Homo sapiens: one gene and its partner. The protein of the gene in region 2 purifies or fractionates together with the protein of the main gene of each other region. This does not show direct contact. Each region holds a gene or a part of one and is shown on either strand. Other genes may lie near its edges.

Region 1 (3,500 bases), on a different chromosome or scaffold from region 2:
TATTCAGAGTAAGCAAATCCATAGAGACAGAAAGTAAATTCATGGTTACCAGAGGCTGAGGGAAGGGAGAAATGGGAAATGTATGGGTTTTGAGGGAGCAGGGGATGATAAGCGTTCTGGAATGAGATAGTGGTGATGTTTTACAACCCTGTGAGTATACTAAAAGCCACCGAACTAGACATTGTAAAATGGAGATTTTTACTGTATGTGAATTATAGCTCCAAAAAACTTGGTTTAAAAAAGTACTTGACAGGCCGGGTGCGGTGGCTCACGCCTGTAATCCCAGCACTTTGGGAGGCCGAGGCGGGTGGATCACGAGGTCAGGAGATCAGACCATCCTGGCTAACACGGTAAAACCCCGTCTCTACTAAAAAAATACAAAAAAAATTAGCTGGGCGTGGTGGTGGGCGCCTGTAGTCCCAGCTACTTGGGAAGCTGAGGCGGGAGAATGGCATGAATCTGGGAGGCGGAGCTTGCAGTGAGCCGAGATCACGCCACTGCACTCCAGCCTGGGCGACAGAGCAAGACTCCCTCTCAAGGAAAAAAAAAAAAAAAAGTACTTGATAGAAAGGGCTTAATGAAAAAAAAAAAAGAAAGAAAGAAAAAAGTACTTGAGGCCAGGCATGGTGGCTCATGCCTGTAATCGCAAGCACTTTGGGAAACCAAGGCAGGAGGATCACTTGAGCCCAGGAATTCGAGACCAGTCTGAGCAACATAGTAAGACCCTGTCTCTACAAAAAAAAAAAAAAAAAAAAAAAAAAAAAAATTAAAAATGAGCCGGGCGTGGTAGCACGTGCCTATAGTCCCAGCTACTCTGGAAGCTGAGGCAGGAGGATCGCCTGAGACCAGGAGGTCCAGGCTGCAGTGAGCCATGATAGCATCACACCACACTCCAGCCTAGGAAACACAGTGAGACCCTGTCTCAAAAAAAAAAAAAAAACTAATTATATCAGTGCAATAGTTATATCCTAAAACCAGAAAACACGTTACATAGTCCACACCTTGAATTCAATCTCAGATATGAATATGCTGATTTTTTAGTAGTCTATTTAACATATCTAATCTATGCTAAGAAATCTTTATTTATTTATTTTGAAAGACAGGGTTTTGTCTGTGATATGGAGTGCAGTGGCATGATCATGGCTCACTGTAGCCTTGAGTTCCTGGGCTCAAGTGATCCTCCTGCCTCAGCCTTCTAAGCAGCTGAAACTACAGGCATGTGCCATCGTGACCAGATAATTTTTTAATTTTTTATAGATGTTTCCCAGGCTGGTCTTGAACTCCTGACCTCAAGTGATCCTCTCGCCTTGGCCTCCTAAAGAGATGGGATTACAGGTGTGAGCCACCATGACCCAGACTAAGAAATCTTTGTAATCGTTACAAATTTATAATTTAACTATAGCTAATGAACGATTGAGTCAAAACACAAAATGGCATTCCAAATAAATGTCATAAAAATTCACATCTTTTTATATTACTTTAAATGTAAAATTTACAGTGCTCAATATGTGCAAACCTCTGGTACATGGTGCATATAAAGGGGAAAAAGGTCTACTCTTCAAAAACTTTTCATCAAAGAGCTATTTCTGCATTAGCATAAATCTAGAAGGTTACAAATAAAGACAATATAATGTGTAGCTAAGAATTCATGGTAATGAAGTTCACTCGTCACCTTTCTCAGACTTGCAAAACATAGTATCTTTAAACTGGATATATGGATATACAGTACTTAAATTATACGTACCAATAAAGCTAATCATTAGTGAGGAAGACTCCTATCCCTTGCAGTCCTTTACTTGTAGTTTGGGTCTTGTAGTGATAAAACAATGACTAAGACCATTAGAGAAAATAGCCTCCTGGTTAAACATACATAATTTGATAAAGGTAGGTTTCCAATATTTGGGTGACTATTTTCTTGGGAAAAAAAAAATGACAGCTGTGTGCAGCAGGCTCACGCCTGTAAGCCCAGCACTTTGGAAGGCCAAAGCGGGTGGACCACCTGAGGTCAGGAGTTCGAGACCAGCCTGGCCAACATGGTGAAACCCCATCTCTACTAAAAACACAAAAATTAGGTAGGCATGATAGTGGGCGCCTACTAATCCCAGCTACTTGGGAGGCTGAGACAGGAGAATCACTTGAACCCAGGAGGCAGATGTCACAGTGAGCCAAGATCATGGCACGGCACTCCAGCCTGGGTGACAGAGCGAGACTCCATCTCAAAAAAAAAAAAAAAAAAAGACTACTGCTGGTCATGTTATTTTTATTGAGAGTCTCATCAATAACTTTAGGCCTGGTGTTAATAACTTACATAACTTAATGTAGTTTTCTGCCTAAAAATATAATTTCATTTTGCATCCCCAATCTCCTCCTGAAATTAGTTCCAAAATATTTAAGCACTTATACAAGGTCCTTCCAAGCAAGATATTACAGAAACTACAAGTTATGATACCGCTAAAAGGATCACAGCATCAAAGTATCAATAATTTTCACCGAAGAGTCCAAGCACATTTTAAAAGTTTCTAGCCTCACACCCGAACAGCTTGAACCTTTAGTGAGAATACTCACTGCCGCAAACACGAACAGCTTGAGAAACAAAAGCATATGTTAATAATACCAAATAACCTTGTTTCCTTGCATTTATGTACTGACAAATTGTATTTTAAAATAAATAATTTTAAGAGCAAACAGCCTGTTCTTAGATTGCCTAGTCTGTATATTTGACTAAATTTCAAAGTTACTCATATAAAACAGTGTTTTATTCACTGAAGTGAGGCTTACTTTATAGAAGATAAACACCCTTATCCGAAGTGAAAACATGCAATGCAGAAACTCAGTATAGCATTCAGCCATCCTGCAGAAAGAAATCCACCAACTGAATAATTGTTGTAAACAAATAATGCAATTTCTCAATTAGATGTCTTGATAAAATTATTTTGCCCATGCTTAACTCTTTAATAAGTATCACAATCATTTGAACTGTCTGTTCTGTAGCTTATTTATAATAATCATCACCTAAAATAGTTATGGCTGCAATCCTTTAGAAATAAATTTAGGCCAGGCGCGGTGGTTCACGCCTGTAATCCCAGCACTTTGGGAGGCCGAGGCGGCTGGATCACCAGGTCAGGAGATGGAGACCAACCTGGCTAACATGGTGAAACCCCGTCTCCACTAAAATACAAAAAAAATTAGCCGGGCGTGTTGGCGGGGCCTGCAGTCCCAGCTACTCGGGAGGCTGAGGCAGGAGAATGGCGTGAACCCGGGGGGCGGAGCTTGCAGTGAGCCGAGATTACGCCACTGCACTCCAGCCTGGGCGACTGAGCAAGACTCCGTCTCAAAAAAAAAAAAAAGAAAAAAAATTTAGTGTCATTCCGTTTTATATCAAACAAAACAGAAATTTCCATAAGTAAAAGTATTTTATGGAGCTTTTATTCCAGTTGCAGAAGAATCAAAAAAAATTCCAAAACCACTGGCCTAAAACTATCAACTGCCAAAAACAGTGC
Region 2 (4,219 bases):
TCCACGTGTACAATATGAAGGTATTTGAAAACGTCTGAAACATTCATTTTCATTACTAACCACCACCACTTGCCCCAAAGCCTTTGTATGCAACACACGGACCTTTCCTGTTGGGGCGATGTTTGAAGGGTCAAGTGCTTAGTAATGTCTACTCATCTGTGCTGGAGACGAGGGGGTAGCATTTACAACACGCCTGTACGAAGGCCAGGTCCCGTTCTACTTAAAAGGCTTGGAGCCCGGGCGCCACTGGGCTAAGGCAGCTTCAGGGCCCTGGCCCGGGAGTGCATTTGCGGGGACTCCGCCTGAAGACAGGGCGGCAGCCGCGGGGCCTCACGTCGCCCAGGCTCGCGGGGCACCGCGATGATCAACGACACTGGCGTTTGCTTTGGACCTCACAGGATGTGTGGTTGGCGCTGTATTCCAAACAGTGCCACTGTCAACCCGGCTTCCATCGCGCTCGGGACACCGGGATGGCAAACGGCAGGCTGTGGATGGCGGGCGGTTTCCCACTGACTCCTGCCCGCTCGGTGCAGCTGGAAAAACCGAAGCCGGGGGCCGGACGCGCCGCCCACCAGCCGTTCCTCGGCTAGCACTGCCCATTTTGCCCAGGGAATTAACTTGGAAGTTTTCACTTCACTTTTCGCATAGAAAATCATTTTAAAAAGCAAACCAAACGCCTGTAAGCAGACCCGCTAGGGAGCAGGACTCTGCCGCGTGTCCTTCCCGGCTCCGGAGCGGCGGAGCCAGCCACCCGGCACGGCACGCTGGCCGCTCACCCCGCGAGGTGCAGGGAGCACGTGGGCCGACGCGCGGACCCCAGAGAGCGCAGCGTGACCTGCTGCACGGACCCTCGGATGAGAGACCTGGGGCGGGATCTGCGACCGGGGCCCGCCCTTACGTCAGGAGGGAGGGCCGGCCGGCGGGGGAAGCGCCTGCGGTGGCGTCCGCTGCCCCCGCCCGGCTGCTCGGAAACTTCCACCGGCGGCGGTGACGGCCACGCTGCCCTGCGCACGCGCAGCGCGGCTCAGGCGGCAGCCCGGTGACACCGGCCCTAGCGCGCATGTCTGCACGCCGGGGTCTGCGCGCCGCGGCGGGCCGAGGGCGGCGTGCGGGCCTTCCAGCCGCTGCCTATTCCACCCAACGCCGGCCTAGTCAGTAATGGCTCAACGCCACCGCCTCTCCCTCCAGCCCCTCCCAGTCGCGTAGCTTCTGACGCCGTCCTCACCCCGCCCGCGGCCGACGGGGCCCCAACGCGCAGGCGCGGTAACCACGGCGGCAGTGTCTAGTGAGGATTTGAAATCGGTCGCGCGTGCGCACCGGCGACACGGCCCGGCGACCGAGGCCGCGCTTCCTCCTGCCGCCCCCGTCCCCGCCCCCTCCCCCGCCCCTCATTGGAGCGGACGCGGCGGCGGCCCCCTCCTTCCCCCGCGCTGTCGCCGCCGAGAGTGTCTTTTCACCGCCGCCGCCGCCGCCGCCGCAGGAGCGCCGAGCCAGCGGCGCGAGCGTGACTGAGGGCTAGCCGCACGGGCGGCGGCGCCTCCCGCGGGTCCTTCAGCCGCTCGGCGCCTGGGCCCGCCCCCTCGGCCCCGCCGCCCGCCCTTCTCCGATGGCCTCTCCCCGCGGCCCGAGTGGAACGCCGCCGCCGCCGCGGCCCCCGCGCCCGCCCCGCGCCGCGTGAAGCGGGAGCCCGGAGACCGCAGCCGCCCGCTGGGACGCGCCAAGCGCCGGAGCCGCCCGCCGCGGCCTGCCGGGGCCCATCACCGCCGCCGCCGCCCCACGCCGGAGCCCGACGGGAGCGCGGCTAGAGCAGGAGGCCGGGGCTCGGCCCGCCCGCCGCCGCCGCCGCCGCCGCCGCCACCGGCCCAGGCCCGTCCGTCCGTCCGTGCGCGCGCGGCCGGGCCTCGGGGCGCGGCGGGGGCGGGGCCGCGTCGGGGCGGGCGGGCGCGCGGGCCCCGCGGGGGCGGCGCGTGGATGGATCCGCGCGTGGCCTGGATCCAGCCCGAGCAGAAGGGGCCGGCCAATGCCCTGTGGATGCAGATCTGGGAGACCTCGCAGGGCGTGGGCCGCGGCGGCTCGGGCTTCGCGTCCTATTTCTGCCTCAACTCGCCGGCGCTGGACACGGCGGCCGCGGCGGGGGCGGCCGGGCGGGGCAGTGGCGGCCTGGGCCCCGCGCTGCCCGCCGCGTCGCCCCCGCCGCCCGGCCCCACCGCGCCCGCCGCGCTGCCCCCCGCGCTGCTGACGGCGCTGGGGCCCGCGGCCGAGGGCGCGCGGCGCTTGCACAAGTCGCCGTCGCTGTCGTCCTCGTCGTCGTCCTCCTCGTCCAACGCGGAGTCGGGCACCGAGAGCCCCGGCTGCTCGTCGTCGTCCTCCAGCAGCGCCTCGCTGGGCCGGCCGGGCGGCGGCCGCGGCGGCGCCTTCTTCAACTTCGCCGACGGCGCGCCCAGCGCCCCTGGCACAGCCAACGGGCACCCCGGGCCGCGCGGCCCCGCGCCCGCCGGCTCCCCGTCGCAGCACCAGTTCCACCCGGGTCGCCGGAAACGCGAGAACAAGGCCAGCACCTACGGCCTCAACTACCTGCTGTCCGGCAGCCGCGCGGCCGCTCTCAGCGGAGGGGGCGGCCCCGGGGCCCAGGCGCCGCGGCCCGGCACCCCGTGGAAGAGCCGCGCGTACAGCCCGGGCATCCAGGGGTGAGTGCGCGGGGAGGCCGCGGGGGCGGGGGCGGGGCCCATGGTCCTGGCCGGCGCCCGCGGTGCAGACACCCGTCCCAGGCGCCCGGGCTTTTGGAGGATGGATGTTGAAGGCTAAGGCCAAGGCCCGACTCTGCACTGAAAGTTTTTTTTTTAAACATCAGACTCATTTATCGTGGAGTGACTTGCCCAGATCCTACAAGTAACAGTCCAAGAAAAGGGGCTGCTGGGTAGGACCTGCAGGTATTTGTCTTTTTTACTCTTGAGATTGGAACGGGAAATCGACTCTCTACCCCTCCACCCCGCCTCCGGGCAAGTGAGGAACCCCTTGTCAAAGTGGGGCGTAGATAAGTGTGGAGTTTCACGTAAGTTAAGTTGCAGAATAATTTAGCATTGCCAGGAACTCGAATCACGTCGAAGGTAAATATTAACCTTTTTAATTTCATTTTTTAAAAAAATTTAACTGTCAACTTAGAGGTGATTCATTTTTTGGGGGGTGTTGTGTCCTTTAATTTTGTGCTGCAATTACCATAAGCATCGCCTATGGTTTATAAACATTGGCTTAATTCAAAGAAAAAACCAGATTTGTCATATATGTCTATTCTTTGGAAGGTGCCATTTTTATTTTAAATATTTCTACATCCGCCTAGAGGGAATTAGAGGCTCTACTTAAATTTAGTGCACTTACAGACGGCAAGGAATGAAACGAAAGGTGGTGTGTGTTTCGGGGTTGGAATTGTCCCAGGTGAGGCTGTTCAGGTGTGATGCTGTTGACGCAGCCCCTTTGCCATTTTGGGCTTTTCTGAGCGTCTGGAAGCAATTTATGTGTAGGTTGTATGTCAGTATTTTAAGACTTAAATGATAATTTTTCCTTGCACAATTTTTCCCCCCAATTTAAAAAACAATTAAGGATTTGCTGGGGTATGAGGGTTGTTGCATGCAGTAGAGTCCTACAAATAACCACAATTGCTAGGTGTTGGGAGTTCTTATAGTAAACTTTTGCTTGTAACTCTTTTTCTCATTTGAAGTATGTTGGGAAACACGAGTTGATACTTCTTTAAAGCGTGTGATACACTGTAATAGCTGCATGTTCTGTAACTTATTTCACCTGGCTTGGGCTACAAGCGATACCTTCTAAATTTCCCGAAGTGTAAACATGCAGTGCAGACGCCGGCAGGAGCGCAGACTCCTCTTCTCTCCCTCCAGTTCTTACCTGTAGAACTTTCTGAGAGCAGGTGGTTGGGAGCAGTTTCTTCTTGATGAATAGCAATATATACCTAAGGGCTCGCTTGGGGAGGACCTTTAGGTTTCCAGCCTGTTATGTAACTGGAATGGACTCCGTTTCTCTTAGCACTAGAAAAAACAGGAAGACACGTGGTCTCTGCCAGTCTTGGGTTGTACCTCTGCTCTTAGAAAGTGGTAGCGCATCAGGTCCCATGCACCTCACTTGGGCTCCCCGAGCTGTTTCCTCCAGGTAACTCTAGTCAGGCTCAGTAGGTGGTGTTGCTTTTGTTAGTGAATGAGCCCACTAG

What was found. The genes of interacting proteins can lie anywhere in the genome.
Region 1: the proteins of TENT4A (region 2) and LRP6 purify together in Homo sapiens (affinity purification with mass spectrometry; 2 studies listed by BioGRID and IntAct, with this or other methods). This does not show direct contact.

Annotation. Positions count from the first base shown.
Region 1 is NC_000012.12:12,257,045-12,260,544, forward strand, and holds part of LRP6 (low-density lipoprotein receptor-related protein 6 isoform b precursor), read right to left. Parts: intron 1-3,500. UniProt on the Homo sapiens protein: Component of the Wnt-Fzd-LRP5-LRP6 complex that triggers beta-catenin signaling through inducing aggregation of receptor-ligand complexes into ribosome-sized signalosomes.
Region 2 is NC_000005.10:6,712,013-6,716,231, forward strand, and holds the start of TENT4A (terminal nucleotidyltransferase 4A), read left to right. Parts: upstream 1-1,419; 5' UTR 1,420-1,971; coding exon 1,972-2,687; intron 2,688-2,736; exon of another isoform or gene 2,737-3,107; intron 3,108-3,129; exon of another isoform or gene 3,130-4,219. UniProt on the Homo sapiens protein: Terminal nucleotidyltransferase that catalyzes preferentially the transfer of ATP and GTP on RNA 3' poly(A) tail creating a heterogeneous 3' poly(A) tail leading to mRNAs stabilization by protecting mRNAs from active deadenylation.